Regions from separate parts of the Homo sapiens genome. Here region 1 is linked to region 2. A link means that fine-mapping ties the variant in region 2 to the expression of a gene that starts in the linked region. Tissue or cell type: whole blood. Region 2 holds a variant in brackets; the other region holds the start of a gene. All regions are shown on one strand. Distances are from middle to middle.

The links. PIP is the estimated chance that this variant, and not a neighbour inherited with it, causes the effect.
Region 1: it holds the start of VTI1A, and the variant in region 2 is fine-mapped to the expression of VTI1A in whole blood (INTERVAL, PIP above 0.99).

The regions. Positions count from the first base shown.
Region 1 is chr10:112,444,239-112,449,387 of GRCh38, reverse strand. It overlaps VTI1A (vesicle transport through interaction with t-SNAREs 1A), which reads right to left and starts at 2,173. Exons shown (of 8, transcript NM_145206.4): 1 at 1,921-2,173. The coding sequence starts at 2,014. It overlaps ZDHHC6 (zDHHC palmitoyltransferase 6), which reads left to right and starts at 2,474. Exons shown (of 11, transcript NM_022494.3): 1 at 2,474-2,683; 2 at 3,738-4,218. The coding sequence starts at 3,952. RefSeq lists enhancers at 2,108-2,367, 2,568-2,687.
Region 2 is chr10:112,816,018-112,821,145 of GRCh38, reverse strand. VTI1A (vesicle transport through interaction with t-SNAREs 1A) reads right to left here. Exons shown (of 8, transcript NM_145206.4): 8 at 2,402-5,128. Among named protein-coding and RNA genes, the nearest start is that of LINC02935, 72 kb to the left of the region's middle. The variant TG/G (reference allele first, on the strand shown) is at 2,337.

The DNA.
Region 1 (5,149 bases), 370 kb after region 2:
AAATTGTAACACGATCTGTTTTCTTGGAAATTTACAACTTTGCATCCAAGGATGATTTTGTTACCTTGTAAAACAGCTTCCCAATACAAAAACTAATAACCCAAAGAAATGTTTCTACTGCTAAAACAATTACAATTAAAAATGAGTAAAACTCTAACTGGAACCACAAGTCCTGATACTCTGAGGCTCTGGGACTCAATTCAAAGGAAGTAGTCTCCAACAATAACAAAAATCAAGACGATCTCCGGCAGTGGAGAAAAGCAGAACTGAAGAGAAGAGGCGAGGTGATGTATCATGAAGAGATGAGGCCATCAGCCACTTTCGACACAAAAATCTCTGAGGCAGCAGAGCTTGGTGGTATATACTACCTTGGTTCTCTCCTCTTGTTCCCTTACTTGGACTCATAAACCTCTTTAAGACATCATCCATCTCCTCCAGAACTAACTGGGGACTTCAGGAGATGAGTGGGGTATAAGTTCAGAGATCCTGGCTTCAAGCAAATATCCCTATTAACAGAAAATAGGTGAGGGGAAGAAAAACAAAGAAATAAGGGAAGAAAATTACTTATAAACACATAAGTTTTGGGGGAAGTAGGGAAAGGGAAAGAGGAATGACAACTTAGGTCCGGGAGAAATTATTGCTAGTACCAGGACAAGTGGGCAAGTGAAGTGCCCACCAATCCGCAGATTAATGAGCACATCCACCTTTCTACACTTTATATCCTGGAGCTAGGGTAGGGACAAGTCTAGCAGCCAGATGATGGTTCAATTTCCCTAACAAAACTAAACAAAAATGTAAAACCCTTTTCTGTAACTAACTACTCTAATCTGTAGAGAAAGATAGTCCCCGAATCAACATTGTACAAACCATAGTTACAAAAGATCATATTTATATTCACCTGCTCATTCACTTATTTTCCTGAGCCCCTAATAAGTAAACGCCAAGGAAATCAGACACAGCTCCCACCTTCACATAGTTGACAGTCTAGCATAGAAAATAAGATGTGCTAAAACACAAAAGGAAACACAAAAACAAAAACATTTCCAGATGGGAGATGTGAAATTTTTAAGTGTGAAAAATTATCTTGTACCAAGTTTTACATGAAACTGGGTTATACAATAAATCCCCAAGAAGGATGAGAAACAAGAAATGGGGGTGGGGGGTATGAAAAATACTAATGCTAATACAGCAACTAACAACACCAAAAGTGACTTTAAATATGTTATATAAATTTAATCTACCTAACAACCCCATGAGAGAAGTACAATTTTCCCCCATTTACTAAGAAGGAAAGTTGAAAGAGACTAAGAAGTCTGTTTAAGAGGCACAACTTTTATTTTATTTATTTATTTGAGACGGAGTTTCACTCTTGTTGCCTAGGCTGGAGTGCAATGGCGAGATCTTGGCTCACTGCAACCTCCGCCTCCCGGGTTAAGAGGCACAACTTCTAAGTGACAGAGGTAGGATTTGAATCTAGGCACCCTGATTCTTACCTCTATTTTGCCGCATATAATTATAACAATATTATTACTAACACAACAACGCCGCTGTAGATTGTAGATCCATAGGCTACATACTTTCATTCATTTTCTTTGAATACTCACATGTCTATAATTTACAAATGAAAACATTAAGACTCTTAAGACGTTAAGAAACGTTTCCAGGTTATGCAAGTTACAAGAAGGTAGAGCCGGGATTCGAACTCAGATGGCTCAGATTCCGAAGGCTCTTTTCACGGCACCCCACACCCGAACTTGACTCCTTACCCTCAACCAAGCCAAGCCGTATCCCTCCTGGGAACAGCCGGCACCACCCACTCCAGCCTCGCGCCTCATAGACACACTTACTCGGGCGGCGTTCCACCGCCCGCACCCTCCCAGCTCTCCCCAGCACCCTCGTCCAGCCGGGCAAGGCTCTCACCAGGCGGGAGTCGTGGGACCCTCGCAATCTTGCTGGTGATCTCTGCAGTGAGCACCGCGAAGTCCTGCTCGTAACCTTCGAAGTCGGACGACATGGCGGCTCCGGAACGAGTAGCCCAGGCCAAAGCCTAGGTCAGGGAAAGGGCCTCGAGGGGCAGCGAGGGGCCCCGCGGCTTAGGAACCCCGGAAGGTGCCCCCGAGAGCAGAACGGAGAACCGGGGACAGCTCTCAACCCAGCCGCTTCCTGGTTGTTCGTCGCAATCTCGGTTCTCCGGAAATTGGGTTGCGTGCGTGCTTTATTTTCCGCTCCGACTTTAAGATAAGTAAGTTCGCAAAGGAAAAGCGCCCCAATTAGTGCCTCCCCCCAGAAAAGCGTATGAAAATATGCAAGTTCTGAGGGATCATTAGAAGCGTTTTTTCCCCCCTTCGTGTTCTGGGAATCGGCTCCGGATCCACACGCTACAAGGCACAGCAGCTTGCTTCCGGAGGGAGGTTTGAGGCGGCGAACCTCCGGAAGTGACAGTAACAGAGACTGCGCAGGGGGCCTGAGCGGGAGAGTCCTGGCGAGGGCGCTGGCCGAGAGGTGCTCGGCTTGTAGCAGGTCCCGCACTCCAGCCTCTCGCTGCCAGGGTTTGCTCTCTGCTTGTCCTGGGCTGAGGTGTCCATGACGGAGTCATCCAAGGAGGAAAAAATCTGTTCCGGGTGAGCCCAGGCCGCCCCGGATATGCGATGGCTGAGGAGCAGACACCAGGGACCACACTGAGGTGGGAGTCAAGGCAGGGAATATAAGCACGATTTTGGTGGTCTTTGTCCCACCAGAGTGGGAGCAGGCTCTCCTGAATGTTGAGACCAACCTGGCTTACCAGGATATTTCTTCCTTGGGTGAGGATTTATTTCTAAGCCCTCTGCTCCATGACTCGGGCGGGAAACTGAGGCACAAGTCAACAGCGTCTGCTGCGTGGTAGTCTGTATTATCCATGTAGCTCAGATCCTCTTCCAGATCTTCAGATCCAGTCCAGGCAGAGATGCCCTTCCACAAATCTCTCCGGAGCTCGCCGCCCTGCCTTCCATTTCCCTCGCTCCTGGAGGCACTTCCTCTTCTTTCTTCCCTCGAATCTTCTAATTCAGGTTCTTCTCATATACTCTTCTGGTCATAATTTCACACACACCACACACACTCTCGCTCTATCTCCTCCCTTCCTTTCCTTGCATGCTCTCTTTGCTTTCACTGTCGCTCCTTTACTTTTGGGCCAAATTGACTGTTCTCTTGATGTTTGGGTGGCGGGGTGGAGGAGACTGCAGGCAAATGGCATAGACCATGTCTGACTCATACTTGGCTTAATTCAAGACTTCATAAGAGGCAGCTTAGAATTTCATAAAGGGAGGTCGTTGACTTGCCTTCTATTCTGGTTCACCTGTTACTTGTGACCTTGGTCTAATCACTCAGCCTCTCTAAGACAATTTCTGTTCTATGAAGAAGGAAACTGAATTAGATCAACTCTAAGGTCCTAAAATTCTTTGTCTTCTCAAACTATTCACTAAGCGTTGGATGGTGACAGTCCCCTGACAAGCGGAGAAGGAATAAAAAAAACTATTTTGGAATCGTGTATCCAGTTTGCATGCCATTCAAACTTGTACCATATTTTGGATAAGTCAAAAGTAGTTCTTTTTGACATTTGACAAGATATGCATCCCAAAGTGTAGTGCACTTGTGAGATGCTGTTGTGTAGGTGTTTATTGTAGTTAACAAGTATGGTATGCAATAAAGGTTTTGTTTTGTTTTGTTTTAACTGAACTTTCCCATTTTGTTTTCTTTAGGTTGGGTTTCAGACCAAGACACTGGATTCTCCTAGTTAAGATAAAGAGCTTTGGGTGCCTGACAGTGAAAATGGTGTAATCTGCGTTAACAGTTCACAGCTTGAAGGCATGACAATTAAAGAACACACATGGACTTGTGGCACATGGAAATGTGCGCACAGAAAAAGGAAATCTATAATTCTTTTAAAGTAGGAAGGCATTCTTCCTTGCCAAAATGGGTACATTCTGTTCGGTTATCAAGTTTGAAAATCTACAAGAATTAAAGAGACTGTGTCACTGGGGTCCCATCATAGCCCTTGGTGTTATAGCAATATGTTCTACCATGGCCATGATTGACTCTGTGTTGTGGTATTGGCCCTTACATACAACTGGAGGAAGTGTGAATTTCATCATGTTGATAAATTGGACTGTCATGATTCTTTATAATTACTTCAATGCCATGTTTGTCGGTCCGGGCTTTGTCCCTCTGGGGTGGAAACCGGTAAGAAAGATTCTGTAAGACAATGAACTTTAATGATAATCGTATATTTGGTTTTTGCCTTATCTACTAACCAATAATACCAAACACAGCCTACTGTTTGTCCTCACAGAGACTAAGTATATTACTCTAATCACTGATCATTTAGGCTCGGAGACTTTATTTCATATCTGTTTGAACACATTGATCCAAAATAGCATTTTCCAAAGCAATTTTATTGAATATTTGCTCTGCATTAAAAAAAAGATGGAGGTGGGGTGGAGGTGGGATAGGTTCATGGTCAAAAGTTTAGGAAACATCACATGTCATACACAGTGAGGTTTGGCTGTAGTACCTTTTTTCATGTAATACATTAACATCCCTTAGAACTGAGAAAAACGCTTTAGAAACTGCTGGTTTAAATCATAAAGTTTTAAAATCATTGCACTGAAAATATAACATTGGGAAGTATAGTCCAAATCCATTTATAGCTTAAAAACTACTGGGAAATTTATGCTTATGAATGTCCATGTTTCCTGCTAAGGGACCACACCTGATGGCTTGTCAGAAAGGCAGAATCTTGGGCTCCACTTCAGACATACTGAAGCAGAATCTTTATTTTAATAAAGTGCCCAGGTGATGCTTAGGTATATTAAAGTTCGGGAAGCACTGGTGTATATCATGTGCTATGTACTATTCAAAATGCGTACAGAGGAGGGTAAGATGTAATTTGAACTCTGAAAGAGCTTATAACCTAAGCAAGAAACAAACGCACTTGTGCAAATCACTAAACTATAAAGTAGAACGTGATGGGTGCTGTTAAAGTTAGAAGAATTGAGCATTGTTAGTTGGGGACCTGAGGGAGGAGTGGGAATTTCCAAAGGAGATGGGGAAGAGGGCATTTCAGGTTGAAAGAATGGTGGGACCACGTATTCAGAAACAGTAGACAGCCCTG
Region 2 (5,128 bases):
CAGAGCTCTGCTTCCTGGCGACTGCCCCCTCTGTGATGTCTGAGTTCTTCATGTAGCACGAGTAACGAGCGATTCCGGATGAGGAAGTGCTTTCCCCATGGCACACTGGGAGCCCAGGAGCTATGGCCACAGGGGTGTTTGACTGGGGCAGGGGGCCCTGGAGAGATGCACCCTGTCTTTCCCCCTCTTTAGCTCCTCCTGAAGAAGGGCAGTGATGAGCTCAAGGGGGCCTACTTGCCCTTGCTATCCCCTGGTGCTAGAAAAACCCTCCATCCCTCACCTGTCCACCCTCTGCTACCCAACCCCCAACATATCGTGCCCCATCCTGCCATCTTGCTTTTGCCCTGCTCGCCTCTGGTAAGCTGGCTCCTTGTTACTGCGCTGGAATCCCAATAGAGATGGGAACTCACTCTGCACTCCCCGCATCTGCCCTCCTCCACAACAGGACACTAACCCTGGCTCAGTCACTCATTTCAGGAAGTCCTGGCTCCAGTGACAGACTCTTGCTGCCTGGGCCTGGCTGCTCTCATCCATCTTGGGTGCAATATTTGTGGCTTCAGGAGCTTTTCTGAGCTGTCCACGCAGTCACCTGCCCTGTTTAACAAAGACTGGCATCTGGGCTGAGAGCCACCTGACTGCTGACATTATGTGGCCAGCCTCTGGCAGGTGCCACTGGTCTGAGTCTGATGGGTCACAGGCAAAGTGAAGCCACCAGAATATCTCTTGGGGGCTAGTTTAGAGTTAGAGAGTTACTGCATAGGGTGAGGTTGAGTTTGAGCTAGTCTCAGGCAGACCCTCAACCAGGGTCACTGGGAGTTGGACTGAGGATGGCTCTTCACAGAGCCAGCCTTCCTTCCTTTCTTCCTTCCTTTCTTCCTTTTGGAAAAATGGCTCTTGGTACCTTTTCTGTTGAGGTGTGAAGGCCATCCCAAGGGGGACAGATTGTCATGTGGCTAATTTATCCTGGATTGAAATGGAGGCTTGAGATCCTCCAAAGCCTGGCATGTCTGCTGTTCCTACGCCCATAGTAACCAAAGAGGCTTGAGGCCAGGTCCCACCTGGCTCGTGCCTGCCAGGCAGGTACCTCCCACGCCGTGGCTCCTGCAGGACCATCTGTCCTTGGATGGGTGATGCTGAGAGATGCTACACTGAGCAAGGAACGTGCACCATCTCTTCCCCTCACACCCATGGTGGAGCTACATAAGGGGCCTGGTCCCTCTGGGGATGGGAGAAAGGAACTTCCCATTCCCTGATATTGACCCAACACCCCTGCCCTGAAGTGTCAATGAACCGGGCCTCTGAGGGTGGCTTCCATGGTTATATAAACTCATCAAACAAACAGGCTGAGCAGACATAGACAGCAGCCATAGCATGGAGAAGGCCACTGACTTCCGATTTAGGATGAGGACGATGGGGCTTTGTCCTCCCTGGCCCTTCAAGCTCATGGTCCATGGAAAAGAAGAGCCATTCACCAATAGCAAGTCACAGAAAGGAAAAAGGACAGAAGGCCCATCTCAGCAAAGTGTCTCCCTGTTGCATATTAGGGAAGCGCTGTTTGTAATGAGCTCCAGTTGACGGCACGGAGATGCCCAAGACATACCCCCAATCAGACCCTCCCCAAACCAGCCAACCAGACACACATCTTCCTTTAAGATGTCTCTACTGGCTCTCCCGCCTGCCCACATCCCTGCAACAACACACCCAGCCAAAGGGGAAGGCAAGTGGCTTGGAGACCAGGGACTCACGGTGGTTCCTCTGAAACCAGCGCTGACCACAACCAACCAACAGAACTTGGCTCTGAACTTCCCCTCCACACACACGTTTCTCCCAGGAAAGCCACCTCCACTCCCAAGCATGGAGTGCCTCACTAGGCTAGCAGTTCAAACCAAAGGGATGAGGAAATCATCACTCCTAGTTAATTCTCCACTACGTAGACAAACTGCTATTAATATTTACGATGGGAAATTTCATTATTTAAAAATTCTGCCCTAAATTTCCAGCTCACTCCATGAAGAACGCCTGCTGAACAGGTTGCAAATTAAGAACAATTATTTTTCTCTTCTGCATTTGAATACAACTTACAGCTAAAGTCATTTAAAGGGGTTAACATCAACCTTAATTAAATATTAAAGTGTGCCTGTACCTGCTGCTATTGTTGCCCCTTCGAATAAGATATAACCTATTTTTGACAAGTTTTCATCTTTCTCTGTGGAAGACGCTACATGAAACCAAATCAGTGGCAAAGAGGAGAGTAATGAATAATCTATTTCATATTCCAACAGTACCCAGAGCTCGGAGTGGAAAAATATTCAGTCAGATGATGGCAAGAGGCTGCT[TG/G]GGGTACCACATGACACAGCTAATGTTTAAATAATAATAATAAAAAAAAGCGATAAACAAATCATTAGCCCTTAACAGTTGTTTAATGCAATTTGTTAATGAACGTAATGGTGGGGACTAATAATGAAAGAAAATAAAAACGTCTAAACAGGCGCCAAGTTGCTGGCAATGCGCAATTATTTCCTTGTCAAGTTTTTATGATTTAATGAGCCCCTCTGGGACTGACGGCTGTCAGTCAGTCGTGACTTTTTGACACCATTACAACTTCAAATACAGCAGCAGGCAGGCTGTTTTCCTCGGATTTGAAATACTGAAATGATCTGACAGTTTTAAAGAAAAGATGTGCAAAAAAAAAGGAGAAAGAGAGGGAGAGAAAGACAGTTGCTTTTCCTTTCTTTCTTTTTTTTCCCCTCCCTTCTTCTATGGGTTGATAATCTCTGGATGCTGTTTGGTAATGAAAACCCAATCACTGAGGTCATTATCTGATGAGGTTTTTGGAACAGGCAGGCTTTTTTCCCCCTCTTTATTTCTTTACTTAATGATAACCCTCAATGGGCTTGCCCCGCATGGGATGGCCAGAGCCGCACAATTTTGTTCACCATTAATTTCAGCCTTTGAAGCTCAGGGCTCAGAAGCAGTAGCAAAGCAAACCCCCCACCAAGCTGGTTCCAAAATAAGACAATCCAGCCTGCCTTAAACAGAATAGCAAATGGCCTCCCAGCCCAGGCCCGGCAGCTGACGTCAGACCCACTGCATTTGCAGGCATTCGCCTTCAACACGGATCATTTAAAACTCTTTACAACTTAAGAGACTTTAATTAAATTGCTTTTGATTCTGGAGTGGGGTAGCATCCACTTTATTTATTCTGTCAGGGAAACTGTTTAGTCTGCATGAATTTTATATGGCAAGGGCTTCCTTCTCTTCTTCCTCCTCCATGCCTTCATCTTCCCCCCAACCACTCCCTTAAACATCATTTTTAACAAGGGCTCCCAACTTGAGAAATATTCGTCAAAGTCTACACACTAAGTACCTAGAACCTCTCACAGATCTACTTCACTATCTGCTTCAAGTCTGTGGACGTTATTCCTTTCCTGGTGGGGCAGGGAAGGAAGGAGAGCAATTGGCCTCTGCTGGGGATCCCCTAAGTCTTTTCTGCAGTGTCCAGGAGGACCAGGAAGGAGTTGAGGGAACCTTCTGACCAGCTTCCTCACAAAGCACTCACTAGCCTGGCCTAGGTAGTTGCTCTCAAGGAGGTTTGATGGAGCTGTTAGGCCAAGGGTTATCTGTTCATATTCTTCCCACTCCCAAGGTTGAATTGGGGTAAAATCACAGGCAAGAGCTGATAAAGACATAGAACTTGAACGAAAAAAGCTATTGAGAGGTGAGCAATGCCCTCCTCCTTTCTCATTTTGTCTGCTTCAACATGAACGCCAGGATTCAGTGAAATATTCAGGAGGCGGCCAGTTTAGATGATCCGATCAACCTTGCTTGCTAGGTGGCCTTGGGAAGAGTCTGCTGCATTGTGGACGGGATGGCCGTGCGAAGTGCAGCTGGTAACTGGTTATACACTTTAGCTAAGATCAACAGTTTTGAAGGAAGCCACCAGAGGGGCTGGTGTAATACTCGATGACTATTCGTGTGTCGGAATGAGAAAAGGGTTGTTTGTTTGTTTCCTTGCTTTTTAATGGTTCTTAGATGTGGTCAGCACGTACAGCATTCCGTTATCAGAATACAAGATTCTTGCTGAGACGGATCCCTTAAGCTGACAGGAAAATTAGCATAGCTTCCTGCTCCTTCTCTGTCCTGCTTCCCTCGGCCAAAATCCCACACCATCCCTCCGAAGTAAAGGCTGCAGCTTTATTTACACAATACTAAATGATTTATCCGAACACATGCAGGCCTTGGCCTGTTTCGATAAGTGCAATTTCTCTGGTGGATTCTGCCATTCTGCATTTCCTCTCTAAACCATAATGGTTTTCTTCTGAGTTGGGAAAAATATCAAGCACTACATCCAGGTGATATTGATCCACGGGCACAGGTGGTTAGCATTTTTGATGAAGAGAACAGGTTTGCTTTTCAAGGATTCAAAGCTTCTAATTATATTCCAAAGATAGTACGGACCAGTAAGTGCCTATGAAGTCTTGAGAAAAACATTCTGCTTTGTGACTGGGGGGAAACGACCTCAGCTTGGGCAACTTTTAAGCCTGATCACAAATGAGCTCATTTTGAACGCAATTCCTGGTTACCTCAGACAGAAAGAAATGAAAGAAAAAAATCACAAAGCATATTAGAAGTTTGAATACATAGTGAATTCAAGAAAGGCTTGCTAACATTTGTTAGTTAAAAACCCAAGCCATTCCTTTTGGAACAATCTGCCATCCTCTATTCTTTTAAAGGAGGTTAGGGAACGTTTTCCGTGAAGTTTATCTCTGGTGGACCCTCCTATAGGACTCTCCCATATTTATAATCACATTTGAAATTTCACACTGATGGAGTCATGTTCTTGCTCTTACTGAAATATTCATGGTCTCTTTACATACTGGAATGTATGTGGAGAGAACCTTGTCAGACCTTTTGCAAGTATGAGGACTGCTTTTGGCAGTGCAGATATTAAAACCGAAAGGATACAGAGATGCTTACACAGGTCAGGGAAGACGAGGTCACAATTAAATCCTGTACCAGGGCTCACTTTGCCAGCAGATTCTGGGGAGTATGGGATTTGGGGAAGGCAAGAAAATATTTCTTGTAGCCAGTAATCAAAGTTGTGAACAGTGAATACTGGGCAGGCTCA